Linked DNA regions of Homo sapiens: regions 2 and 3 are each linked to region 1. The links come from fine-mapping of genetic effects on gene expression. A gene starts in region 1. Each other region holds a variant in brackets. All regions are shown on one strand. Distances are between the middles of the regions.

The links. PIP is the estimated chance that this variant, and not a neighbour inherited with it, causes the effect.
Region 2: its variant is fine-mapped to the expression of STK31 in minor salivary gland (GTEx, PIP above 0.99).
Region 3: its variant is fine-mapped to the expression of STK31 in whole blood (TOPMed, PIP 0.94).

The regions. Positions count from the first base shown.
Region 1 is chr7:23,707,906-23,715,792 of GRCh38, forward strand. It overlaps STK31 (serine/threonine kinase 31), which reads left to right and starts at 2,314. Exons shown (of 24, transcript NM_031414.5): 1 at 2,314-2,430; 2 at 4,194-4,240; 3 at 4,329-4,381. The coding sequence starts at 2,381.
Region 2 is chr7:23,677,520-23,688,292 of GRCh38, forward strand. FAM221A (family with sequence similarity 221 member A) reads left to right here and starts at 2,680. Exons shown (of 7, transcript NM_199136.5): 1 at 2,680-2,764; 2 at 6,980-7,153. The coding sequence starts at 2,700. RefSeq lists a silencer at 2,614-2,903 and an enhancer at 3,234-3,483. The variant A/G (reference allele first, on the strand shown) is at 6,160.
Region 3 is chr7:23,790,647-23,801,419 of GRCh38, forward strand. STK31 (serine/threonine kinase 31) reads left to right here. Exons shown (of 24, transcript NM_031414.5): 22 at 178-300. Among named protein-coding and RNA genes, the nearest start is that of STK31, 86 kb to the left of the region's middle. RefSeq lists a silencer at 4,671-4,871. The variant T/C (reference allele first, on the strand shown) is at 6,285.

The sequences.
Region 1 (7,887 bases):
CATCTGGGTGACAGAGCGAGACCCTGTCTTACACACACACACCCACCCACAAAAAAACTATCACAGAAATAATACACAATATACTAAAGTTATATTTCTATATACTAGCAACAAAACAAACAAGTTGAAATTAAGAAAATAATACAATTTACAACGGCATGAAAAATGAAATTCTTAGGGATAAATCAGACAAAAGTAAAACTTTTATAATGAAAAGCATAAAACATCACTCAGCGAGATAAAATAAGACCTAAATAAATATACTGTGCTCATGGATCAGAAGACTCAATATAGCTAAGATGTCCATTCTCCTCAAATTGGTGTATACATTCAATGTGATCCCAATCAAAATCACAGCAGGCTCTGTGTGTGTGTGTGTGTGTGTGTGTGTGTGTGTAGATGCTGACAAATTGCTTCTACGATCGCATGAAATAAAACTACCGTAATTAAGACAGTGTGGTATTAGTCTAAAGAAAGCAAATAGATCAGTGTAACAGAACAGAGAATCCAGAAATAGACTTGCGTATGTATGGTTAATTGATCTCTGACAATAGTGCAAAGACAATTCAATAGACAAATGACAGTGTTTTAAACAAATGATGCTGGAAAAATTAGATATCCATATGCAATAAAATAAAATTTGATTGTTTCACATGTTATAAAAATAAACTCAAAAAGGACTATATATCAAAATGTAAAGCTTGAACATGTAAAATTTCTGGAAGAAAATATAGAAGAAAACTTTTGTGAACCAGGCTAGTCGGAGATTCCTTACATACAACACAAAAGCATGAACCATAAGACAAAACCGATAAATTAGACTTTATTGAAATTAAAAACTTTTGTTCTTTGAAGTACCCTTTTTAGAAAACAAAAAGACAGCTGTAGACTGGGAGAAAATATTTTCAAACCTGAAGGAGTTTTATCCACAGTATATAAAGAACTGTCAAAACTCAATAATAAATTCAGTTAGAAAACAGGAAAAAGCTTGGACACCTCATTTAGGAAGATCTGGATGGAAAATAAACATAAGAAAAGTTTCTCAACATTTTTAGTTAGTAGAGAAATAAATGCAAATTAAAATCACAAGGAGATACCACTTTAAACATTTATACATGAATGTTTAAACTTAAAAACACAAACCATATCAAATGATGGTGAGGATATAGAGCAACTAGAACTCTGAAACCCGCTGGTGGGAATATAAAATAGTACAACTGTGTAAAACTATGCGGCAATTTTTTAAGCACATATACAATTCTATGACTTGGCCATTCCACTCCTAGGTACTAACCCATGAGATATGAAAACATATGTCCATACAAAGACTTGCACACAATAGCAGCTTTATTTGAAACAATTCAAAACTGGAAGCAGTCCAAACACCTATTAAAAGGTAGATAAACAAATTGTGTTATATTCATGCAGTGGAATAGTAACAGCAATAAAACCCAACAAACTCTTGACACATAGGACGAAATTTATCAATCAAAATAATTATGCTATTGGAAAGAAGCTAGATTAAATGTTCATACTGTATGATTCTATTATCGTAAAATTCTAGAAAATGCAAACTAATATATGGTGACAGAAAGCAGAACGGGAGCTGGGAGGAGTCAGGTATTACAACCGGGCATGAGGAAACTTTGAGGTGATGGAAAAGTTTATCTTAATTGTGGAGGTGATTTCAACAGTGTATACATATGTTCACCCTTAACAAATTATGCACTTTTGATATCTGCAGTTTATTGTACTTTAACCTTCAAGCTGTTAAAAATTAACCGGAGATAATTTTCAATTGTTGTGTAAGGTTTGCCACAAAGTGTAATATCTGCAAAGAAGCAGACAACTAATTTTTTCTTCTTAAGATTGTGGAAAAAGTTGTAATACTACAGAGAGCTGTGGAATCTAAGGATTAGTTGACCAACGCTTGTAAAGCTACCAATCTGAAAAACACATTTTCAGTTACCAAAGTTATTTTCTCTCTTCCATCGTGTAAATAGAATGTCGGGGTTCTTCTAATTTGGGTGTTTCTAAAATTTAAATCCACGTGAACAGATTAGGAAAGACCACGAAATCCTACGTCACCTCTAAAGTCACAGCTTGAAGCCTTGCGAAAGGAACTGGCCCTAGACCCCACCCCGGCCTATAAATCACCAGGGCGCAGCCTCAGTGCCTGGGGGTCGGCAGCAGCCAGCGTCAGGCGGCTCCCGCACGCTTCTTCCTAGGCGGCAGGCCGTGGCTGCCACGTGACTCCCGCTAACACCGGATGATGGCGCAGCGCTGTGCACGCAGGCGCAGTGTGGGGCCCTTGCGGTCGAAGCTCACGCGGTAAGCCGCTGCACGTGTGCTACGGCGGGCGGAGGGCCGAAAGTCCAGTATGTGGGTCCAGGGTCACTCTTCTAGAGCTTCCGCAACGGAAAGTGTGAGGTCAGTAGTAGTTTTTGTGGTACGTGCAGTGGTGGCCGCTTCAAGGACTATTTTCGTCGCTGCTTGCGTTTTAAGTCTCCAATCCTGGGACGAGGCCCATTTCAGGGTTTTCTGTCACCTTCTAGCCGCCCGCCACCCCAGAGGGGTGCCAGATGCCCCAGTTTTTGAGTGCATGCAGGCAGGCGAAAGTGGCTCGAAAAGACCTCCGGCCTGAATGATCTCCATGAAGACGCGGTCACGCAGCCTCCACACTCTCTTCCCCTTCTCGAAAATTCTGTGCCATTTAAGTTTCAAAATCCCTTATAAAATAAGTGTCAGAGAGCTACGTGTACCCGTTTCTTCCAAATTTTCATCACGAAGTGGAGATTTGGACGTACTATTTTGTGATCTCTGTTTGCAGAAAGTGGGTACGGCATCAGTGCCTTCATAATCAGGGCAAGTCATTTTAAAATAAGATTTAAAAACTACTCTAGAAGTAGCTTCTTGGAGTGTGTGGAGAGATTTCCAAAGTAATTTTAACTTTTACTGAATTTAAGCCTTAATGCTTTCCGTGGGAATATATAGTCTCCCTAAAAGTTATTACAGCTTTTCAGTCAGTTGAATTTAAAAACTGCTTTTTGACCAGTAGAAAAGAACCCTTGCTTTGGAGACATTTTCATGCCACTTACGAAAAATTTTTTTAAAAAATTAAGTTGTGACAAAGTAATCCATTTTTAAAATTTTATTTTTCTGTGATGAGGAGTTAATGTTTTCCTTTTCATAATGAGAGAGCATTTGAAACTTTAGTATAGTGGTGTTCCTAGACAACTTTTAAAGCTCTTAAAAAATTGCGGTGGCTTAGGCCTGTAATCCCGGCACTTTGAGAGGCCGAGGTGGGCAAATCACAAGGTCAGGAGTTCAAGACCAGCCTGGCCAACATGGTGAAACCCCGTCTCTACTAAAAATACAAAAATTAGCTGGACGTGGTGTCACGCGCCGGTAATCTCAGCTACTTGGGAGGGTGAGGCAGGAGAATTGCTTGAACCCGGGGGGTGGAGGTTGCAGTGAGCTAAGATCTCCAGCCTGAGCGACAGAGCAAGACTTCGTTTGGGGGGAAAAAAAAAAAAACCCATAAAAAATCTGTGTTTTAATTTTCCTTCAACACTTATGAATGGAAAGTGCAGTATTTTAGTATATTACAGATAAAATTACATAGTGTACATTTATTTTGGAATATTTTTGCATTTGATAAAGTATAATATTATGTAATTAAAATTATTTTTGAAGTAATAGGCAAAATTTTAGGTATTTTTGCAGTCTTTAATCCCACGGAATCTTCAAAAATAGTAACCACCGTGCCTTTTACATAAAATAGACTACCAGTTTAAAGCATTTGTTCTATTACTTGTAATGTTTCTCTTTGTTTACATTGTGGAAGTCCTTTTTATGGGAGGATATTTTCTAAAAAAAGAATATGTACATTGTTTCAAAGTATTGATTTATGTAAGTGATCAAAATGTATATGAGTTCAGTATAAGTTTGTAAAAGTTTGGCTAGAGATAATTTTAAGGATAGAGATTATATATGATAAAATTGCATCTACTACAAAATACTCAAAAGAATTAGTTAGTGAAGGAAATATTGAGCTCATTTTTAATATAGAGTTTGAATTTTGATAACTGCATTTAGGACAAAACATTTGTAAGAATTGAACATGATGTAGTTTAGTCTTCATTCATTATTAATGGTGGATTATTGTAATCTAATTTAAGGTATTGTTCTAGTTTTTCAGGAATTGTTCAAATGGATGAAGATACACATTACGATAAAGGTACTGACACTAAAAATTATTTTGGGGTGTAAGAGCTAGATGATACTGATTAATTTCTAATTTTCCTTGTATTGTGATTTGATTTTAGTGGAAGATGTGGTTGGAAGTCACATAGAAGATGCAGTAACATTTTGGGCCCAGGTAAATAGCAAACTGGTTGATATCCCCCCTCACCTCCCCCAATCCAGTTCCTCCCCAACAAAAACAAAAATAAAACCCAGGAATAAATACATTTGTCATTCTCATTGCCTAATATTTATTGAATTATTTATCACCAGGCATTATTAGGAGACAAATGTTGACAGCTGTGATGTTACTTGACTCATTATGAGTCAAGTGTTATGCCCATAATACACCAAGTTTGAAAAAAGAAAATTGGCAAGATTGTGATTTCAGAATTCCACTCAATTCTAGGCTGCTTTTGCTGGATTCTGAGAGCCTGTTGTATTTGTGAAGTTATAGCCCCATCTAGGGGTCTTTTATAAGATTGTTTCTTGAAGGAGGATAAGTTAAAAATCTCGGTCGTTTTTTCTAATGGCTTAAATTTGAGATGTGGTATTTTTCTCATTATAGAATTGGAAGCATGAATGAAACATTTCTGATTTTCTGTTGGGAGGGTGTCAGTTAGGTAAGGTTACTCAGTTTTAAATACAAAGCAAGCACTGAAGGGCTGTGTTCCACAATTTAAGAAGGTAAATTCCTCTGATGCACAGAACGACCTGCTAATTTTTGGTTTTGTAAACTATACATGATACGGAAGGGAAAGAAATTACGTTTCTCTATACTCCCTACAGCATGGGAACTCCTTTTGGTGGGGGGTGAGGTGAACTCGTAATGTGGGAAATAAGGAGAATATATGAGAAGAAAGTTCTAGAAGAATATGATTAACCCAGAGTTCTTAAATATATAGTCATGCATCACTTAATGACTGGGATACATACAGAGAAATGCATCATTAGGCAACTGCGTCGCTGTATGAACATCATAGAATGTACTTAGAGAAACCTGGATGATATAGCCTACCACATACCTAGGCCATGTGGTGTACCTGTACCTCATGTTACTGTACTGAATGCTGCAGACAATTGTAACACAATATTAAGTCTTTATGTATCTAAACATGAAGGTACAGTAAAAACATATTATAAAAGATTAAAAAGTGGTACACCTGTATAGGGCACTCACCATGAATGGAGCTTGCAGGATTAGAAATTGCTTTGGGTGAGTCATTGAGTGAGTAGTGAGGAATGTGAAGTCCTGGGACATTACTGTACACTACTGTATACTTTATAAATACCATACACTTAGGCTACACTAAATTTATAAAAATATTTTTCTTCAATAAACCTTAGCTTACTGTAACTTTTAATAAACTTTTGACTCATTTGTAGTAACACAGCTTAAAACAAACATTGTAGAGCTGTGCAAAAATATTCTTTACGTCCTTATTCTAAAGCTTTCTTCTCTTTTTAAACTTTTAATTTTTTTTTACTTTAAAAACTTTTTGGTTAAAAACGAAGACAAGATCTTCAATATCACTGTCTTTCACTTCCGCTTCTTGTCCTACTAGAAGGTCTTCAGGGTCAGTAATGTGCATGGAGCTGTCATCTTCTGTAATAAAAATGCCCTTTTGGAATACCTTCAGAAGGACTTGAGGCGGCTGTACAGTTAACTTTTTTAAATAAGTAGGAGTACACTAAAATAAGAAAAATTATAGTAAAAAAAAATATATATATACACACACACCAGTGACATAGTTATTTTCATTACCAAGTATTATGTACTGTACATAATTGTATGTGCTGTGCTTTTGTGAGACTGGGGCACGGTAGGTTTACACCAGCATCACCACAAATATGTGAGTAATGCATTGTTCTATGATGTTACAATGGCTAGGACTACACTAGGCAATAGGAATTTTTCAGCTTCATTATAATCTTACGGGACTACTGTAGTGTGTGTGGTTCATTCTTTGACCACAATGTCACTATGTGGGGCATGGCTGCATGTAAAAAAAAATTGTAGAAGGGTGATGTTATAGAAAACTTGGGGCAAATTCGTGTGTCTGCTTATGCACATATATTTGGCAAATTTGTTTCTGCTTATGCATATTCTCTAAAGGTTGCTCACACGTTCTGGTTCCATGCCCATTGTCTCTGTATTAGTGACAACTGCATCACTCTCAACAGTGTCCCAGGGTGGATGATAAATTATATTTAAGCTTATTATACAGAAACATCATTTATCAGTGTAAAAAGATTTTCTAGACTAGTGCTGTCTAGTAGAAATATATGAGCCATGTAAGTAATTTTAAAACATTTTTGGCAGCCACATTGAAGAAACTAAAAATAGCAGGTGACATTTTAATAAGTACATTTTATTTAACTCAATATATCCAAAATATTGTTTCAAAATATAATTAGCATAAAAATGTGAACAGGATAGTTTATATTTCCTTTTTAATATTGTCTTTGAAATCCAGTGTGTATATTAGACTTACAGCATATCTCCTTAGACTAGCCATATTTCAAGTGGGTATTGGCTATTGTATTCACTAGTGCAGCTCTAGACTTTGATTTCAGTTTACTTTATTTGTGAATATGTTGATTGAATTTGGAGCAAATTCAAGAGTCAGCAGTTTTTTTTTTGTAAAGGATCAGATGATGAGTATTTTACCATTTTTAGGCCATACAGTTTGTTTTGCAGCTATTCAATTCTGCCAACATAGTGCAAAGCAGCCATAGACATAATGTGAATGAGTGTGTGTAGCTGTGATGCAGTAAACTTTATTTACTAAAACAGGCGGCTGTAATTTGCCAACCTCTGAGTTAAACCATGAAGTTGAGGCTCTTGTAGAAGAACGTTTAAAACAGGAAACATGCGCATGAAAAGATTAAACATTAAAACTACTAATGGTATATAAATGAATGTAGTGGTTATTTCAATAAGCAAATTGGCAAATTTGGTTGGGGTTATGGTGGGATATAGGCATAGAGAAGACTAGAGATTTGGAAATACGCGTAGGCAGATTAGGATGAAAATCTGCTCACGTGTATTCTCCATTTTTTTTTGCCCTGTGGGCTTCTGCCTTATAAACCACTTATAAGCAAACACTTCAGATTGGATGAGTGGCAGCTGAAGGAATCTGACGTATTTGACTCCACCTGTTTCTTTGAAAGAACAAGCTTCTGGTCAGGCATGGTGGCTCATGCCTGTAATCCCAACACTTTGGGAGACCTATGTGAGAGGATCGCCTGAGCCCAGGAGTTTGAGACCAGCCTTGGCAACAGTAAGACCTTGTCGCTACAAAAAAAAAAAAAAAAATTAGCCAGGCATGGTGGTGCATGCTTGTGTTCCCAGCTATGTGGGAGGCTGAGGGTGGGAAGATTGCCTGGGCCCAGGAGATTGAGACTGCAGTGAGCTGAGATTGCACCAAACAAACAAACAAACAAAGAGCTCCTATTTGTTTTAGTCTGTATAGTGAAAAAATATAGTTATATGGAATATTTTGATTCCAGGGGTTTGTTCACAAAGGCTGCTTCTCTTGTTTCTCAGGGTCAGTTTAAATTCAGTTCCTGTTCTATGCTGAGACTTTGATATTCATCATGATGTTCTTTGAACTGCTCTTTCAGAGTTTTTTTTCAGTC
Region 2 (10,773 bases), 29 kb before region 1:
CAACCATGTTTCTTGGTGAACTAAACACATTTTTAACCCAACACACATTTCTTTTTTTCTTTTTTTTGAGATGGAGTTTCACTCTTATCACCCAGGCTGGAGTGCAATGGCGCCATCTCAGCTCACTGGAACCTCTGCCTCCTGGGTTCAAGCAATTCTCCTGCCTCAGCCACCCCAGTAGCGGGAATTACAGGCATGAGCCACCACACCTGGCTAATTTTTGTATTTTTAGTGGAGATGGTGTTTCACCATGTTGGCCAGGCTGGTCATGTACTCCTGACCTCAGGTGACCCACCTGCCTTGGCCTCCCAAAGTGCTGGGATTACAGACATGAGCCACCGTGCCCTGCCCCAACACACATTTCTAACCCTCTCCTTGACAATTGCCATCATAGAGCCTGGAAAACTAAGTACTGGATTGGCTTTCCCAGTTTTCTCTATACCAAGGTGTGGCCATGTGAGACATAAATGAAAATTTTTTTGCAGAGGCCTCTAGGAAAACTCTTTGATAAAAGAAACAAATGATGTTGGTGGCCCTCCTTTTTCCTTTCTTGAATTTGGGTATGATTTCTGGAGTTGTAACAGCTCTTGCAACCATGAGGAAAATGCTCTAAACCAATGTGAGCAACTACCTACCCCCACTCTTCTTTAAAGCAATAAAAAATAAAATTTATGTTTAATTAAGCCACTGTTAGTTGAATTATTCTGTTATTTTCAGAAGAAAGCATTCTTAACCTATACATCACAGCAAAATGCTGGCAAATCCTATCTCATAAACTTTCATGAGGATTGAATAAATAAAATGCCTAACACTTGCCTAGGCAATTTACATGTTCCTCTGTCCACCCTACTTCCTAGATCAATTTAGCTACACATTGGGAGGAAGTTATAGTTTGATTATACCTTTTTATTAAAGCAGAGGTGAGTACCATATACAGTATTTTAATTTGCAAATCTGTCAGCTTTATGTAAGGTCAGGATAACATTTTCTAGTTTGTTCCATACTCTTATTCGTCACGCTCAATATTTTTGTTGACTTCTTTGGCCAGAAGAGTTTACTGCTCCAGCATCTTCCTGGAAGAGTCCACAATTGGGCTAAATCTATTTTAACCATTTCCCTCTAGATTTTTAAATTGTACTTGCCTACACAGACATTCCCCTGCCACTTTTCTGTAAGCCTGCAGAGCCTGGCATTTTCTTCTATTTTTCTTTGTTAGTTCAGTTGCTGCCTAAAAGCAAGACTAGGCTCTCATAGAGGTAGAATGGGGCTGGGCGTGGTGGCTCACGCCTGTAATCCCAGCACTTTGGGAGGCTGAGGCGGGCAAATCACGAGGTCAGGAGATCAAGACCAGCCTGGCCAACATGGTGAAACCCTGTCTCTACTAAAAATACACACACACACACACACACAAAAGCCAGGCGTGGTGGCTAGTGCCTGTAATCCCAGCTACTCAGGAGGCTGAGGCAGGAGAATTGCTTGAACCTAGGAGGCAGAGATTGCAGTGAGTCGAGATCCCGCCACTGCACTCCAGCCTTGGAGACGGAGCAAGACCCCATCTGGGAGGTGTCGGGTGGAAGAGGTAAAATGGACAGCAGCAAACCACACGTGTGATAGGAGAGAATACTGAGCTGAGATCAGTTTCCTAAAATATGAATCCGATTTCAGGATCACTCATTTATCTGACTGTCAAGAACGCCTCTGAACAGGAGGAAGACTTTGGGGAGAGGGTGGGGTTTGTTGAAAGGGTACCGAGAAGGGAGGTGGGTGGTACCCAAACAATTTGTTTACATAATGTTTTATGGACCTGAAATATGTAGAACAGTACTTTGAAACTAAAGTACTGTACTGAAGTTTAATTATTTTTCTTATTGTTTGCATATTCTCCCTCCCAGATACTTTACAGAGGGCGCTAAAGCTGATCCCCTGGGAGCTTCAGAGTTTAATGACTTCGCCTGAAGATTTCCTATTCTTTTCCACAACGTGCTAAGTCAAATTATGGCCAAATTACCAATCGCATGGTAATTCAGCTTCTAAATATATTTTGCAGAGTGTTTCCAAAAGTTAAAAAACAACAACAAAACTTCACCTAAATTGTTTTTACTTGCTTCACCTTAAATCAGTTATTCGGTTCCTTTGAAGAACATGTAGCTTTAGCAACCCCCAAAGTGAACCCAGATACCCAGGACTACTGATTGTTACATCAGAGTTTTTGAAAACGCCAATACTGGAAACAGGCCGACAGTTAAGGAGAGGCAGGCCTCAAACTAAAGCAGAACCTTCTCAAAACTACTTATATTTCAAGAGATGGATTAAGCGAAAAGAGCTGTACAAAGAAATAAGCCATTTTCTATGCGCCTGTTATATGCAAGGCACTGCACTCCCTTGTCACTTGTTAATTTACAAGAAGACTCGCCGGTCCAGGGAAGGGAGAGGGGAATAGGTGCAAGGTTTGTGGAGGGCGGCAAACTGCACTCCATGTGGCGCGAGGCTGCGCTTGCGGAGATCCGGGTTCTGGTGCCTGGCGCCGGCAGCCAGTAGGGGCGCGCGTCCTGCGCAGTTGCCGCGCGCGGCCTCCTCGGGCTTCAGGCCGGGCCAATCAGGAGGCGGGCGGGAGGGGGCGCGGTACCGGGAGGGAACGGGGCGGGTCGGGCTTCGAGGTCAGCTGGTCCGCAGGGAAGCCTTTGGCTTCCCCACCGGCAATGGAGCGGTTGACGTTGCCTCTCGGCGGCGCGGCGGCGGTGGACGAGTACCTGGAGTACCGGAGGTGAGGCTGTGGCTCCGGGCCTGCCCCCCCGCCGCTCCGAGGGGCCAGGATCCCTGGGCTGGGGGCGCGAGCAGGGGCCCGGCGGGCGTCCGCGGGGGTTCCCGGAATCTGTGCCTGGGCTGTTGGGGGAGGCCTAGATGAATTCCAGTTTAGTCTTTGCCTAATTAAATATTGTAGGGCCACGCGGTTCTATGCAGTGATGAGTCTTCCAATAACATTTAAGAGGCCCCTCTGCTCCCTTCCAAGAAGGATGACTAACTCTAGATTGATACAGAGGTCCAGCTGTTTTTTAAATGGCCATTGAAAACAGGCACATCGAGTACTCGGGGCTATAGAAGTTAGCATACATCAAATTAACCCAGTAATTGAGTCAACCGTGAACTTCTGAACGCGCTCCCCACCCCGAGGTGCTGGTTTTAGGAGAAAGGCACCGACTGGTGTTTGGTATTCTGGAGAAACCCCTTCCGAAACTGGAAACGGAGTCGCTCCTTTGGCCTGAGGACGCGGTTCATTGTCCTGGATCCTGACCGAGGCTGGTGCACCTGCAGCGACGCGCTCTTTTTCCGCTTCCTGGGGTTTTTGATCGTCCGGAATCTGGGCGGATGGGAAGTCCTGGAGAGGACCGCCTGAGGACGCGGAGTTGGGGCGGGAGGATGTGTGTGTACAAGCGGAGGGGAGACGCTCCAGGCTCCGCCAGGGAGGCCGGAGCGAGCGACAGGGGCTCCTCTGCGGCATCGTGGGTGGCCCAGATGACCCAGAGGTGTGCGCGCAGACGGCCCCCCAGCTGACTGTTCTCCCCTGCTCTGACTGCCCTGTTTGTGTAGTTTTGGGTAACCCTTAGAACTGCCTGGATATTCTGAGCCAGAAGAATAAGGGCTAGGAGCTTGATGGGGTCAGTTCCCACGCCCGGTTCAGGGTCAGAACAACCACCATCCCGTCCTCTCCCAGAGCAGAGCCGGCTCCTTTAGCCTCCAGTTCTCCAGAGCTTTTGCCTGGGAGCAAGTTGCTGGAGCTGGTGTTGACTGATAACTTGGATATTTAGATATGTGAATTGTGGGCCTCCAGTTGACTCTTGCCTAGCTCCGAACATGTTAGGGCAGACCTATGTATGTAGTTATTTATTTTATTGAGAAATTATTTAGTTATTTATTTTATTGAGACGGGGTCTGACTCTTTCCCAGGCTGGAGTGCAGTGGCGCGATCTCGGCTCACCGCAATCTCCGCTTCCTGGGTTCAAGTGATTCTCCTGCCTCAGCCTCCCGAGTAGCTGGGACTACAGGCGGCCAGCTAATTTTTGTATTTTCTGTAGAGACGGGATTTCACCACGTTGCCCAGGCTGGTCTTGAACTCCTGGACTCAAGCTATCCACCTGCCTCGGCCTCCTAAAGTGTTGGGATTACAGGCCTGGGCCACCGCGCCCGGCTGGGAAATTATTTTTGCAATCGTAAATAACTTGCAACACTTCCCTCTGAAAGAGATTATCAGGTCCTTTACTGACGTCAGAATTTTAGAAAAGTGGGGAAAACAGGACTTGAGTACCTAGATATGAAAAGGTGGGCTGGGAAGGTGGGGTGGGAAGATGAGTCAAAATATGAGTTTAGAAGGAAACAAACTTTCCTTCCGAAGAGTTTTCCTGGATTTGCTCTTGCCTAGGTACTTCGGTGGGAGTCGGTTGGGAGGGGAAGCATGCAGCCTTGTTACTCACACTGTGGGAGGCCCTGACCAGTGTCCTGGCATCACCTGTTAGCTTGTTAGAAAAGCAGAATCTCAGGCCCACTGCAGACCTATTATTATTATTATTATTTAGAGTCTCGCTCTGTCACCCAGGCTGGAGTGCAGTGGCACTATAATGGCTGACTGCAACCTTGACCTCCTGAGCTGAAGCGACTCTCTCTTCTCAGCCTCCTAACTAGCTAGGACTACAGGCATGCATCTCCGCACCCAGCTAATTTTAAAATTTTTTGTAGAGATGGGATCTCACTAGGATGCCCAGGCTCATCTTGAGATCCTGGCCTCAAGCAATCCTCCCACCTCAGCCTCCCAAAGTGCTGGTATTACAGGTGTGAGCCACCACATCTGGCTTTATCATGTGTGTGTGTGTGTGTGTGTGTGTGTATGTATATATATATTTATTATTATTATTATTATTATTATTATTTTTTTTTTTAGATAGAGTCTTGCTCTGCTGCCCAGGCTGGAGTGCAGTGGCGCTATCTCAGCTCACTGTAACCTCTGCCTCCGTGGAAGTGATTCTCAGTGCCTCAGTTTCCAGAGTAGTTGGGATTATAGGTGCCCACCAAAATACTAATTTTTGTATTATTGGTAGAGACAGGGTTTTGCTATATTGGCCAGGCTGGGCTCGAACTCCTGACCTCAAGTGATCCTCCTGCTTCCGCCTCCCAAAGTCCTGGGATTACAGGCATGAGCCACTGTGCTGTGAGTCTTAATCTGCATTTGAGCAAGATCCCCTGGGGATTCTGTAAGTACAATAAAATTTGAGTTGCACTGGTCTAGAACTTAAATACCAATGACATCTTACTTTTAAAAGATCTTTTAAAGATCCGTATTTATCTTAAGATCTTAATACCTGTTGGTATTCTTGATAGCTACAAGAAAATGAAATGGCCCAAAATTTATCTCAGAATTAAATGCCCTTTGTTTCTTTACTATTATGTATCTAGATTGTTTATGTAAAGAAGGCGGTTTTGATTATTTCATAGCTTATAAATTGGTTTTTCTTTTTTTCTAATGGCAAGTACATAGAGCAATGGTTTTTATTTTCTACCGCAGCTAAAGGCTTCAAAGTATGGAAAAAAGCATGTATTGCACAAAAAAGTATGTAGCATTCCACAAACATCACTTTTTGTGACTTTTCAAGGGGAGTATTTTCAGGGAGAAATGTCTTCAGTTTTGGAAAAACTTCTTTTAGTCGTGCTTTCTTTTCCTCCAGGGAGGCCAACTCTTAATTTCTTTTCATAGAAATAGTGGGGGCTTTATGTTTTCCCATAATATTTTGGGTTCTTACTTCTGAAATTAACCCATGATAAACTTGATTACCTAACACACAGATGTGGTTGGAGCTTGTGCTGAGCCAAGTGTGTATTTAGGTTCCGCATTAGTTTAAACCCCTGGCCAGGGTTTGGAGACAGGTATGGAAATTAGTCATGTTGGCTTCTGCTTTGATGTTTTTTGTACTCTTTTGGGATACATTTTCAAAGGAGGTAAATGTTAGAATTTTGAGCAGTTAAGGCTCTACCTTTAATGAGAGGAATGAACATCTTTGCTTCAATATCAAAGGAAAAGCTGAGACGAATATGTGGTAATCCTCTGTTGATAAACCTGGATCAGTAAAGTTGCATTATGAATTCATTGTCTTTCCTATTTATAACCCTCTT[A/G]TATAGGAAGTGGAGGGGAGAAAAGATTTCTTTTCTCACCCATCACTAGGTTCATGGCTGAGACACCTATGTTTCTGGATCAAACCGATAGTTGGGCTGCCTATTCTCGTGGCCCAGTAATGTGATTCAGATGAACTGGGAAAGAAGGGAGATTATTTCTGTAACTGGTTATAGGGAGAAGGCCTGGAAGATATCGCCAGACCAATTCAAAATTACATATGTTTATAAGTATATATATGTTTATGTGTAAGTGTGCATTTATCTAAAGACATAAATGATTAACTTCTAATCTATAACTAAGATCTGAGTCCTGAAGACCTTCCTCTGGAGCCTCAGTAAATTTAGTTAATCTAAATGGGTCCAGGTGCTGGGGTGATTACTCTGGTCTTGTCTCCTGCTGAATCATGGAGGTTTGGGGAGTTCCTTCAGACCCCCAGTAAACTTGTTTGTGGAGGTCTGGGGAGTTTCTTCAGACCCCCAGTAAAACTTGTTTAGTCCCAAACGGGTCCTTTAAGAATTCCTTCGTTATGTTGTCATGCTTCGAGGCCCAGGAAAGGCCTGGGCAAACGCTCGGTGGGCTTTTGTTACATTCCAGCCTTTGTATAAGGACCCTGGTTCTATTAGCTTTTAATATTTAACTTAACCACTCAGTCAGTGCTGAAACAGTTGTTACAGAGACCCGGCCTGCCACATCTGTAAGAAAAGACAGATTTACAAAATAAAAGCTTACAAATTTATTTAATATTTGCAGTGGCCTGGTCATAGCTCACCCAGAAAATAAATACTCAAAGCTTAAGAGAAATATATATTTTTGTTGTAGAATTGTTGGTGAGGATGATGGAGGGAAACTTTTTACTCCTGAAGAATATGAAGAATACAAAAGAAAAGTTTTACCTCTGCGCTTACAAAACAGATTATTTGTGAGCTGGCGGTCACCAACAGGGATGGATTGTAAACTTGTGGGCCCAGAGACACTGTGTTTTTGTACACATAGGTAAGATACTTTATTGCAAAGTTTTTTGATAATTAGAAAATAAAAAGCTAAGCATATCTTACTTCTACAAATCGTAATGATTGAGAAACATTTAACAATTGTCCTTTATATAGTAGAGTAGAAATTATCAGCTGGGGATGGTGGCTCACATCTGTGTTATCCCAGAACTTTGGGAGGCCGAGGCCGGAGGACTGCTTGAGCCCAGGAGTTTAGTCTGCAGTGAGCTATGATTGTGCAACTGCATTCAAGCCTGGGTGACAGAGAGTGAAACCTTGTCTCTTAAAAAACAAAAATTGGCCGAGCTCAGTGGCTGACGCCTGTAATTCCAGCACTTTGGGAGGCCGAGGTGGGTGGATCACGAGGTCAGGAGTTTGAGACCAGTCTGGCCAACATAGTGAAACCCTGTCTCTACTAAAAATACAAAAAATTAGCCGGGCGTGGTGGCACACGCCTGTAATCCTAGCTACTTGGGAGGCTGAGGCAGGAGAATCGCTTGAACCTGGGAGGTGAGGTTGCAGTGAGCTGAGATCACGCCACTGCACACCAGCCTGAGTGGCAGTGTGAGACTCTGTCTCAAAACAAAGCAAAACAAAACAAAACAAAACAAAACAAAACAAAACAAAACAAAACAAAACCCCACAAAAATTATCTAAAGGTTTTTAAAGCTATAATTAAAAATTTTCCATCATATCTTATTAGTGCTCATCATGGAGTCTGTCACCTTAAGCAGTTCTCTTGCCATTGGTAAAAATGTTTGGTGGCCCTGTGGCTTTGCCAGGGGTCTTTCAGTTTGACTGGGGAGCAGTCTACCTACATCTCACATCATTGGAGAAAGTAGAGAATGGGTCATCAGATTGAGGAACTACTTTAAGCGTTGCTTGAATTGACCCACACTGATCATGCTGTCCATCTATAAGTATAAACATTTCTCCTCAAATTTACTAATTGCCTTTTATACCTTAAGGATCTGCTGTGTCGATACCTTTCTTTAAACAAACAAGCACACTGCTTTGCATTACAAATGGTCATGTTCCAAGAAAAGTGCCTAAAGGAAAGGAAATAAGTGAGGCTTCAGTTTTTGGCTTGAGTTGTCTGTATCTGAAGTTTGCGTTTTGCTGTGTGTATGCTCTACTTTAAATTTTGCTACCGTCTCACAGTTGTAAATAAAGTTCAGAATACCTAAGCTGCTTCACAGAAAAGTCTCTGAACCTGTTCCATGTTTTCAGGCAGCAACTTTAACTTTCGGTTCCAAGAGGAACCACCCTATTCTGATAGCAATTTCTGGGGCTCTTTCACAGAGACTCTTTGTATAGTTGCTATTTACAGAGTTGCAGTTTGCCAAAGTTTGTTAGGCAGTTGCTAGGATGAGTAATGTTGTATATAGATTGATTATAAATTTATTTAGCAACTCCAACTAAAAACACTGAGGAGGAATGGAGGATAAGGGATGTGTTGATATCTTTCAGAATTAAAGAGGGGTTTGGTAAGTTTGTGATAGTTTTATAATTTATTCTTACACAAATTTAGTGCCACTTTCTAATCTCTGTATAACTTATACAGCATGGACTTGAACGTCAGAATTGATCCAACTCAACTTTTTTTTTTTTTTGAGACAGGGTCTTACTCTGTCACTCAGGTTGGAGTGCAGTGGCACGATCTTGGCTCATTGCAGCCTCGACCTCCTGGGCTCAAGCGATCCTTCGACCTCAGCCTCCCAAGTAGCTGGGACCACAGGCGTCTGCCACCACATCCAGCTAATTTTTGTATTTTTTTGTAGAGAAGTGGTTTGGCTTTGTTACCCAGACTGGTCTGGAACTCCTGGGCTTAAGTTATCTGTCTACCTCGGGCTTTCCAAAGTACTCAGATTACACGTGTGCGCCACCATGCTCAGCTGACCCAACTCAACTTTGATGGAGAAGTTATTATATTTAGTACTGATCCACTCAGTGAGATTTCTTCCAAACTTTTTCACCCCACTATTAAAGTGGTATATGATTATCAAGGAAAATGGGGGATATATAGAAACATAGAATATATTCTATATACAATATATAGAAGCAGCTCACTACCCAAAGCCAGCTGCTAGTTTTTTTTTTTTACAATATCTGTATGACTTTTTCTTTTTTTTTTGAGACGGAGTTTCACTCTTGTTGCCCAGGCTGGAGTGCAGTGGCGCGACCTCAGCTCACTACAACCTCTGCCTCGTGGGTTCAAGCGATTCTCCTGCCTCAGCCTCCTGAGTAGCTGGGATTACAGGCATGCACCACCATGCCCTGCTAATTTTGTATTTTTAGCAGAGACGGGATTTCTCCATGTTGGTCAGGCTGGGCTCGAACTCCCAGCCTCAGGTGATCCACCTGCCTTGGCCTCCCACAGTGCTGGGATTACAGGCATGAGCCACTGTGCCATTTAACTGTTGTGAAGTATGTGTGTGCATAAAATACTGAGCCACTTTTTAATGACAGAATCATAGAAATATGTTTCCACATTGTTATGTGCTGATCAAAAACAAGATTTTTAATACCTGCCAGCTAGTCCAGCTAGTCCAGTGGTGTTTATCTGTGTTCTCCGGAGCTGTGAGGGAGCCTTGGGGGTGTGCCAGGTGGAAGGGCAGGTTAGAAGGGGAAACTCTATTCTGTTCTTCCTTTCGCTTTAACCAATTCTGCATTTGTTTTATGTATTCTGGTTCTATAAAAGATTTTATTTGACAAAAGGGTTTCACTGCTAAAATGTTTGAAAACTGTTGTCTAGTAATTTACTTACTGGTTCTCTTATGTCGTGTGGGTGTGTGTATAATGTAGCTGATGTAAGTACTATTGCTAATATTATTGGTATGCATAAAGCTTTTTCTATATATGGAATTATTTTCTTAGGGTATATTTTCCAAAAATGAAATTTCTGGTTCAAAGAATGGACCTTTTCAAGTTTCTTGAAACATTATTAAATAGAATTTGTTCTTTTGTAACACTCTTTTTTTTTTTTTTTTTTTTGAGACAGAGCCTCGCCTGTTGCCCAGGCTGGAGTACAGTGGTGCCATCTCAGCTCACTGCAACCTCTGCCTCCTGGGTTCAAGGGATTCTCCTGCCTCAGCCTCCCGAGTAGCTGGGACTACAGGCATACACCACCATGCTGGGCTAATTTTTGTATTTTTAGTAGAGATGGGGTTTTCATCATGTTGCCCAGGTTGGTCTTGAACTCCTGAGCTCAAGTGATCCACCTGCCTTGGCCTCCCAAAGTGCTGGGATTACAGGCATGTGCCACAGGCTCCTGGCCCTTTCGTAACACTCTTGATAGCATTGTGTATTACATATAGTTTTTAAAAACTTTGACTCTTTTTGCTAAGTTAAAATGGTATCTCATTTTAATTTGCATTTCTTTTTTTTTTCTTTTGAGACGGAGTCTTTCTCTGTTGCCCAGGCTGGAGTGCAGTGGCGTGATCTCGGCTCACTGCAAGCTCCGCCTCCCGGGTTCACACCATTCTCCTGCTTCAGCCTCCCAAGTAGCTGGGACTACAGGTGCCCACCACCACGCTCGGCTAATTTTTTGTATTTTTAGTAGAGACGGAGGGTTTCACCGTGTTAGCCAGGATGGTCTGGATCTCCTGACCTTGTGATCTGCCC
Region 3 (10,773 bases), 84 kb after region 1:
TATTAGACTGATTTTAAGAGCAATTTATAATAGCAGAAATTGGTAAAAATATTTGAAAGCAAGGGAATGAAATATTTAAAATGAATTTGTTTTTTGTATTGATTAAATGCAGAGTACTTCACAGAAAGTCACCTCAACTGTGTTGTATCTGAAATATGTAAAATATTGTTTTTGCAGAGTCAGCGAGCCTCGGTGAACATGATGGTTGGTGACTTGAGTTTGATGTCACCTGAGTTGAAAATGGGAAAACCTGCTTCTCCAGGTTCAGACTTATATGCTTATGGCTGCCTCTTATTATGGGTATGTTATTTTTTTGTTGAAATAGATCATATATATATATATTTCAGTATATAAAGTGATGATTTTATAGTGATTCTCCTTAAAAATAAAAAGCAGCAGACTTTTAGTAGAACTTTAAGTTTTAACAAAAACTATTGATATGCTTCCTATTACCTATTGTGTACTTTCTACAAATTGGCTTGATGTATATTTTAGGTATCATGCTATTGTCTTGGTTCTGTTGAAGTCAAGATTAACAGTGAAGATGATTTTGTCCTACATTAATCTGAAAGCAGTTCATGCATATATGGAAAATAAATGTTAAATAAGCCTTGGGTATATTCCTGCTTCCAGTGTAGACCAAATAGCTGTTTCTCATCCATAGTTTAAGAATTAAGAAGTTGGATGGAGCTGGAGACCATTATCCTAAGCGAATTTACTGTGGATCAGAAAGCCAAATACTGCATGTTCTCACTTATAAGTGGGAGCTAAACACTGAGTACATATGGACACAAAGAAGGGACACTGGGGTCTACTTGAGGGTGGAGGTTGGGAGAAAGGTAAGGATTGAAAAACTACCTGTTAGGTATTAGGCTGATTACCTGGGTGACAAAATTATCTGTACACCAAACTCCCATGACACACTGTTTACCCATGTAACAAACCTGCACATGTACCCCTTGAACCTAAAATAAAAGTTGGAAGACAAAAAAATAAAAAGCTTGTTTCATGTTGTACTGCTATTTTACGTAGAGAATGCCTCTTTTTCCAAAGTCTTGAGTGTGACAAAACCTTATCTTTGTTGATCACATAAATAAAAATAATCTCCTTGTTAGAAAAACAAGAGTTAAGAGGGATTAAGTATTAAGAGAAGGAAGACTATTCTTATCAGCCCAGGGGCCAGCAAGCATTTTCTGTAAAGGACCAGATGGTCTCTGTTGCAAGTACTGAGTTCTGCTGCTATAGCATGAAAGCAGCCATAGACAGTATGTAAACAAATCAGTGTGGCTCTTTTCCAGTAGTACTTTATTTATGGATATTGAAATTTGAATTTCATGTAGTATGCATGTGCATGAAATAGTATTCCTTCAGTTTGCTATTAAACATTTAAAAATGTGAAAACTACCCTTGGCTTGCAGCTGTACAAAAACAAGTAGTGGAATCAGTTTGGTGCAGAGGCCATATAGTTTGCTGATCTCTGTTCCAATCAGTGTAATAAGGTCAAAAAAAGAAATAAAAGTCATAGAGTTTGAAAATGAAGAAATAAAGCTGTCTTTATTTGCAGATGACATGCTTAATTATGTAGAAAATCTTTGAGAATGTACATAAAAGCTACTAGAACAAATGAGTTTAGAAAGATAGCAGTTTTAATTTCAATATAATTGTGTTTTTATATAAGCAACAAATAATAGGAAATTAAAATTTAAAAATCATTTACAAAAGTATTAAAATATGGAATTTGTAGGGGTAAATTTAGTAAAAGATGTGCAAGAGTTGCACACTATTAAAACTACAAAGCATTGTTCAGAGAAACTCAAGAAGACATAAATAAATGGAGCGATACACCATGCTCATGGACTAGAAGACATTGTATGGATATCAGTTGTTCTTGGCTTATAGATTCGATGCAATTTCAACAAAATTGCTGGTAGATTTTGCTTATTTTTTCAGAAATTGACAATTAGATTTTACAATTAATATAAAAATGGAGAGGATCTGAGATAGCCAAAACAAGTTTGAAAAAGAACAAAATTGAAGGACCCAAACTACCTGATTTTATGACTTAATAGATTCTAGGAAATTAAGACAATGTAGGCCTAGAGTGGTGGTTCAAAACTGTAATCCCAGCACTTAGGGAGGCTGATGCAGGAGGATTGCTTAATGCCAGGAGTTGAAGACTAGCCTAGGCAACACAAGTGAGCACCCCCTGTCTCTACAAAAAATAGAAATTAGCTGGGTGTAATGGCGTGTCTGTGGTTCTAGCTCCTTGGTAGGCTGAGACAGAAAGATTGTTGGAGTCCAGGAGTTTAAGGCTACAGTAAGCTATGACTGCTCCACTGCACTCCAGCCTAGGCTACAGAGCAGGACCCTGTTTCTAAAAACACAAGTGATACTGCTGTGAAGTTAGATGTCCAGATGAATGGAGCAGAATAGAGACAATATAAATAGACTGCACATGTATGATAACTGGCTTTTGACAAAGATGCCAAGGCAGTTCTCTGGGTAAAAGGAGAATCTTCAACAAAAATGATACAGGCCAACTCATACCATATGTAGAGAATAAATTTTGATTCATTTCTTATACCATGCACAAAAATTAGCTCAAAATGTGTATCAGACCTAAATGTAAAACGTGAGTCTAAAACTTATAGAAGAAAACATAGGATGAAATATTTGACTTTCGATTTGGCAAAGATTTCTTAAGTAGGACACAGAAAACATCAACTCTAAAAGAAAAAAATCATTTGGATTTCATCAAAATGGAAAACCTTGCTCTTCTAAAGACATTGTCACAAAAATGAAAGGCAAGCTACAGACTAGGAGAAAATATTTGCAAAACATATATCTGACAAAAATATTATATCCAGATTATCAAGAGCTCCTACAATCAATACTAAGAAGACTGCCCAGTTAAGAAATGGGCAAAATATTTGAACAGGTACTTTACCAAAGAAGGTGTCCACATGGCATGTAAGCATGTGAAAGATGCTCTGAACACCATTTGTCATTAGGGAACTACAGATTAAAACCAAAATGAGATACCACTATACTACTCACTATAATGTATAAAATTAAAAAGATCGTACCAACGGTTGCTTAGATCTGTTGTACCTAGAACTCATATATATTGCCCAGGGGAATGTAAAGGGAACAACCACTTTGAAAAACATTTGGCAGTTTGTTAAAAGGTTGAACATATTCCTACCCTATGACCCAGCAATTCCACTTCTAGATATTTAGCCAAGAGAAATGAAAGCATATGTCCACACAAAGATTTGTATGTAAATATTGAAAGAATTTATGTGTAATAGATGAAAACTAGAAACAACTCAAAGTCCATCAACAGATGAATGGAAAAACAGTCTGCTATGTATGTGTCTATCCATTGGAATACTACTCAGGAATAAAACGATTGAACTATAAATATAACTCAGTAAGATAGGTGAGTCTTAAAATAATTCTGCCAAGAGAAAGAAGCCAGATGATAAGGTTTGGCTGTGTCTCCACCCAAATCTCACATTGAATTGTAATCCCCATGTTTCAAGGGTGGGGTCAGGTGGAGATAATTGAATCATGGGGGTAGTTTCCCCCATGCAGTTCTTGTGGAAGTAAGTCTCACAAGATCTGATGATTTCATAAGGGGCATTTTCCCTTTTGCTTGGCACTTCTTGCTGCCCCCATGTGAAGAAGAATGTGTTTACTTCCCCTTCTGCCATGATTGTAAGTTTCCTGAGGAATCCCCAGTCATGCTGAACTGTGAGTCAATTAAACCTCTTTCCTTTATAAATTACCCAGTCTTGGGGATGTCTTTTATTAGTGGTGTGAGAAGGGACCAGTACAGTAAATTGGTACAGAGAGTGGAATGCTGCTGTAAAGATACCCGAAAATGTGGAAGCAGCTTTGGAACTGCGTCATGGGCAGAGGTTGGAGGGCTCAGAAGAGGACAGGAAGATGTGGGAAAGTTTGGAACTTCCTAGAGACTTGTTGAATGGCTTTGAGCAAAATGCTGATAGTGATATGGCCAGTGAAGTCCAGGTTGAGGTGGTCTCACCTGGAGATGAGGGACTTGTTGGAACTAGAATAAACGCGACTCTTGATGTTTTAGCAAAGAGATTGGTGGCATTTTGCCCCTGTCCTAGAGATTGGTGAAACTTTGAGCTTGAGAGAGATGATTTAGAGCATCTGGTGGAAGAAATTTCTAAGCAGCAAAGTGTTCAAGAGGTGACTTGGGTGCTTTTAAAAGCATTGTTTTGTGTAATCACAAAGATATGGTTTGGAATTGGAACTTATGTTTAAAAGGGAAGCAGAGCATAAAAGTTAGGAAAATTTGGAGCCTGATGATGTGGTAGAAAAGAAAACCCGTTTCCTGGGAGAAACTCAAGCCAGCTGCAGGAATTTGCATAAGTAACAAGTAGCTGAATGTTAATCGCTAGGACAATGGGGAAAGTATCTCCAGGGCATGTCAGAAAGCTTCGCAGCAGCCCTTCCCATCACAGGCACAGAGGCCTAGGAGGAAAAAATGGTTTCATGGGCTGGGCCCACGGTCCCCCTGCTGTGTGCAGCCTTCAGACATGGTGCCCTGTGTCCCACCTGCTCCAGTCATGGCTAAAAGGGGCCAAGGTACAGCTCAGGCCATGGCTTTAGAGGGTGCAAGCCCCAAGCCTTGTTAGCTTCCATGTGGTTTGAGCCTGAAGGTGCACAGAAGTCAAGAATGGTGGTTTGGGAACTTCCACCTAGATTTCAGAGGATGTATGGAAATGCCTGGATGTCCAGGCAGAAGTTTTCTGCAGGGGTGGAGCCCTTATGAAGATACTCTGCTAAGACAGTGCAAAACGGAAATGAGGGGTTGGGGCTCCCACACAGAGCCCCAACTGGTGTACTGCCTAGTAGAGCTGTGAGAAGAGGGCCACAGTCCTCCAGACCCCAGAATGGTAGATCCACTGACAGATCACACTGTGTGCCTGGAGAGGCAACAGACACTCAATGCCAGCCCATGAAAGCAGCCAGAAGCGGGGCTGTAGCCTGCAAAGCCACTGGGGCAGAGCTGCCCAAGGCTGTGGGAGCCCACTCTTGCATCAGTGTGACCTGGATGTGAGACATGGAGTCAAAGGAGATCATTTTGGAGCTTTAAGATTTGACTGCCCTGCTGGATTTTGAATTTGCATGAGGCCTGTAGCCCCTTTGTTTTGGCCAATTTCTCCCATTTGGAACAGGTGTATTTACCCAATGCCTGTACCCCATTGTATCAAGGAAGTAACTAACTTGCTGTTGATTTTACAGGCTCATAGGCAGAAGGAACTTGCCTTATTTCAGATGAGACTTTGGACTGTGGACTTTTGACTTAATGCTTAAATGAGTTAAAACTTTGGGGGACTGTTGAGAAGGCATGATTGTTTTTGAAATGTGAAGACATGAGATTTGGAAGGGGCCTGGGGTGGAATGATAATGGTTTAGCTGTGTCCCCACCCAAATCTCACCTTGAATTTTAATAATTCCTGTGTGTCAAGGGCAGGCCCAGGTGGAGATATTTGAATTACGGGGTGGTTCCCCCATACTGTTCTCATGACTTTAGCCCTATGCCTGCATGTATATTTAAAGTTGTCTGGTTTCATTGAACCAGCACCCTCATGGAAATAAACTAGCATGATTTTCATCAATGCTTCAGTAATCTATTCTTTATATCAGAAGGGTGAAAGTAAACATATCAAGTTTTTTTTTTTGTTTCTGGGAGGACTCATAAGATATCCCATAAGTGTGGTAATAGCAGTTTTTATTCCACCTATTTCCTTTAAATGATAGTAAAAAGCTCCATGAGTAAATATATTGTCTGATTTTCTACTCTTATGTATTGTTGATTAAGTCCTTTAAAAACTTTATTTTTAGATTAACTTGTACAATGGACTTTTTTTTGTATACATTCTATGAATTTTAACACACCTATAGATTAGTGTAATAACCACTGCCACAGCCAGGATGCAGAACAGTTCCATAACCCTGAAAATTCCTGTGTGCCATCCCTTTGTAGTCACAGCCTCCTCCCAACCCTTAAACGCTGGCAACCACTGACCTTTTATCACTGTGTTTTGTGCTTTTAAGAATGTCTCACACATAGCAATATGAACCTTAAATGTAAATGGGCTAAATGCCCCAATTAAAAGACACAGACTGGCAAATTGGATAAAGAATCAAGACCCATCAGTGTGCTGTATTCAGGAGACTCATCTCACATACAAAGACACACATAGGCTCAAAATAAAGGGATGGAGGAATATTTACCAAGATAA[T/C]GGAAAGCAAAAAAAAAAGCAGGGATTGCAATCCTAGTCTCTGATAAAACAGAATTTTAACCAACAAAGATCAAGAAAGTGTAAGAAGGGCATTACATAATGGAAAAGGGATCAACGCAACAAGAAGAGCTAACTATCCTAAATATTATATGCACCCAATACAAGAGCACCAAGATTCATAAAGCAAGATCTTAGAGACCTACAAAGAGACTTAGACTCCCACACAATAATAGTGGGAGACTTTAACACCCCACCGTCAATATTAGACAGATCAACGAGACAGAAAATTAACAAGGATATTCAGGACTTGAACTTAGCTCTGGACCAAGTGGACCTAATAGACACCTACAGAACTCTCCACCCCAAATCAACAGCGTATACATTCTTTTCAGCACCACATAACACTTATTCAGAAATTGACCACATTATTGGAAGTAAAACACTCCTCAGCAAATGCAAAAGAATGGAAATCTTAATGGTCTCTCAGACCACAGTGCAATCAAATTAGAACTCAGGATTAAGAAACTAACTCAAAACTGCACAACTACATGGAAACTGAACAACCTGCTCCTGAATGACTACTGGGTAATTAACAAAATTAAGGCAGAAATAAATAAGTTCTTTGAAACCAATGAGAACAAAGACACAATGTACCAGAATCTCTGGGACACAGCTAAAGCAGTGTTTAGAGGGAAATTTATAGCACTAAATGCCCACAGGAGAAAGCGGGAAAGATCTAAAATCGACACCCTAACATCACAATTAAAAGATCTACAGAAGCAAGAACAAACAAATTCAAAAGCTAGTAGAAGACAAGAAATAATTAAGATCAGGGCAGAACTGCAGGAGCTGGAGACATGAAAAACCCTTCAAAAAATCAATGAATCCAGGAGCTGGTTTCTTGAAAAGATTAACAAAATAGATAGACCACTAGCCAGACTAATAAAGAAGAATCAAATAGACACAATAAAAAATGATAAAGCAGAAATCACCACTGATCCCACAGAAATCCAAGCTACCGTCACAGAATGCAATAAACACCTCTATGCAAATCAACTAGAAAATCTAGAAGAAATGGAAAAATTCCTGGACACATACACCCTCCCAAGACTAAATCAGCAAGAAGTCGAATCCCTGAATAGACCAACAATAAGTTCTGAAATTGAGGCAGTTATTAATAGCCTACCAACCAAAAAAAGTCCAGGACCAGACAGATACACAGTCGAATTCCACCAGAGGTACAAAGAGGAGCTAGTACCATTCTTTCTGAAACTGTTCCAAACAGTAGAAAAAGAGGGAATCCTCCCTAACTCATTTTATGAGGCCGGCATCATCCTGGTACCAAAACGTGCCAGAGACACAACAAAAAAAGAAAATTTCAGGCCAATATCCCTGATGAACATTGATGCAAAAATCCTCAATAAAATACTGGCAAACTGAATTCAGCAGCACATCAAAAAGCTTATCCACAACAATCAAGTCAGCTTCATCCCTGGGATGCAAGGCTGGTTCAACATATGCAAATCAGTAAACATAATGCATCACATAAACAGAACCAAAAACAAAAACCACATGATTACCTCAATAGATGCAAGAAAAAGCCTTTGATAAAATTCAACACCCTTCATGCTAAAAACTCTCAATAAACTAGGTATTGATGGAATGTATTTCAAAATAATAAAAGGTATTCATGACACACCCACAGCTAATATCTTACTGAATGGGCAAAAACTGGAAGCATTCCCTTGAAAACTGGCACAAGACAGGGATGCCCTCTCTCACCACTCCTATTTAACATACTATTGCAAGTTCTGATCAGGGCAATCAGGCAAGAGAAAGAAAGGGTATTCAAATAGGAAGAGAGACAGTCAAAGTCTGTCTGTGTGCAGATGACATGATTGTATATTTAGAAAATCCCATCATCTCAGCCCAAAATCTCCTTAAGCTGATAAGCAACTTCAGCAAAGTCTCAGGATACAAAATCAGTGTGCAAAACTCACAAACATTCTTATACACCCGTAACAGACAAAGAGCCAAATCATGAGTGAACTCCCATTCACAATTGCTACAAAGAGAGTAAGATACTTAGGAATACAGCTAGCAAGGGATGTGAAGGACCTCTTCAAGAAGAATTACAAACCACTGCTCAAGGAAATAAGAGAGGACACAAAAAAATGGAAAACAAATTCCATGCTCATGGATAGGGAGAATCAGTATCATGAAAAGGGCCATACTACTCAAAGTAATATGTAGATTCAGTGCTATCCCCATCAAGCCACCATTAACTTTCTTCACAGAATTAGAAAAAACTACTTTAAATTTCATGTGGAACCAAAAAGCCCGTATAGCCAAGACAATCCTAAGCAGAAAGAACAAAGCTGGAGGCATCATGCTACCTGACTTCAAACTATAGTACAAGGCTACAGTAACCAAAATAGCATGGTACCGGTACCAAAATAGATATATAGACCAATGGAACAAAACAGAGGCCACAGAAGTAATGCCTCAGAAGTATCTACAACCATCTGATCTTTGACAAACCTGACAGAAGCAAGCAATGGGGAAAGGATTCCCTATTTAATAAATGGTGTTGGGAAAACTGGCTAGCCATATGCAGAAAACTGAAACTGGACCCCTTCCTTACACCGTATACAAAAGTTAACTCAAGATGCATTAAAGACTTAAGACCTAAAACCATAAAAGCCCTAGAAGAAAACCTAGGTAATACCATTTAGGACATAGGCATGGGCAAAGACTTCATGACTAAAACACCAAAAGCACTGGCAACAAATGCCAAAATTGACAAATGGGATCTAATTAAACTAAAGAGCTTCTGCACAGCAGAAGTGAACACATCAGAGTGAACAGGTAACCTACAGAATGGGAGAAAATTTTTGCAATCTACCCATCTGACAAAGGTCTAGTATCCATAATCTACAAAGAACTGAAACACATTTACAAAAAGAAAACAACCCCATCAAAAAGTGGGCAAAGGATATAAACCGACACTTCTCAAAAGAAGACATTTATGTGGCCAACAAGCATATGAAAAAAGCTCATCATCACTGGTCATTAGAGAAATGTAAATCAAAACCACGATGAGATACCATCTCATGCCACTTAGAATGGCACTCTTTGAAAAGTCAGGAAACAACAGATGCTGGAGAGGATGTGGAGAAATAGGAACGCTTTACATTGTTGGTGGGAGTGTAAATTAGTTCGGCCATTATGGAAAATAGTGTAGCGATTCCTCAGGCATCTAGAACCAGAAATACCATTTGACCCAGCAATCGCATTACTGGGTATATACCCAAAGGATTATAAATCATTGTACTATAAAGACATGCACACTTAAGTTTATTGCAGCATTGTTCACAATAGCAAAGACTTGGAACCAACCCAAATACCCATCAGTGATAGACTGGATAAAGAAAATGTGGCACATATACACCATGCAATACTGTGCACCCTTAAAAAAATGATGAGTTCATATCCTTTGCAGGGACATGGGTGAAGGTGGAAGCCATCATTCTCAGCAAACTAACACAGGAACAGAAAACCAAATACCTCATGTTCTCACTCATAAGTGAACATGTTCTCACTCATAAGTTGAACAATGAGAACATATGGACACAGGGAGGGGAACATCACACAGTGGGGCCTGTTGGGGAGTGGGGGTCTAGGGGAGGGATAGCATTAGGAGAAATACCTAATGTAGATTATGGTTTGATGGGTGCAGCAAACCACCATGGCACATGTATACCTATGTAGCAAGCCTGCACGTTCTTCACGTGTATCCCAGAACTTAAAGTATATAAAAAAAAGAAAAAATAGAAAAAAATATAAATAAAAATAATATCATATTAGTGGTATCATACAGTATATAATTTTGTGAGTCTAGCTTCTTTCATTCAGCATGTGAATCATCTTTTGTGATTCATTCAAGTTGTCTAATGTAGTTTTTCCCTTTTTTGTTTCTGAATAGTGCTCTGTTGTATGTACATACCAAATTTGTTTGTTCACCTGTTGCAGAACATTTGCATTGTTTCCAGTGTCTGACTATTGCAGATAAAGCTACTGTGAACATGTGTGTATAGGTTTTTATGTGAACGTAAGTTTTTGTTTCTCTATGGTAATTACCCAGGAGTGAAATTTCTGGGTCAGATTGTAATCGTATGTATTATTCTTTAAGGACCTGCCAAACTGTTTTCCAGAGTGGCTGTACTGTTTTTGATTTTCACCTGCAATTTATGAAAGTTTCAGTTCAGCATCATTGTCGGCACCTCGTATTGTTATTATCTTCTATTTTAGCCATTCTCATAGGTGTGTGGTAGTGTTTCATTGTGGTTTTAATTTCTCTAATAGATAATGATGTTGAGCATCTTTTAGTTTGTTTATTATTGGCTTTCTGTATTTTCTTTGGTGAAGTGTCTGTCTTTTGCCTGTTTTTTAATTGGATTTTTGTTTTATTGCTGTAGAGTTTTGGGCA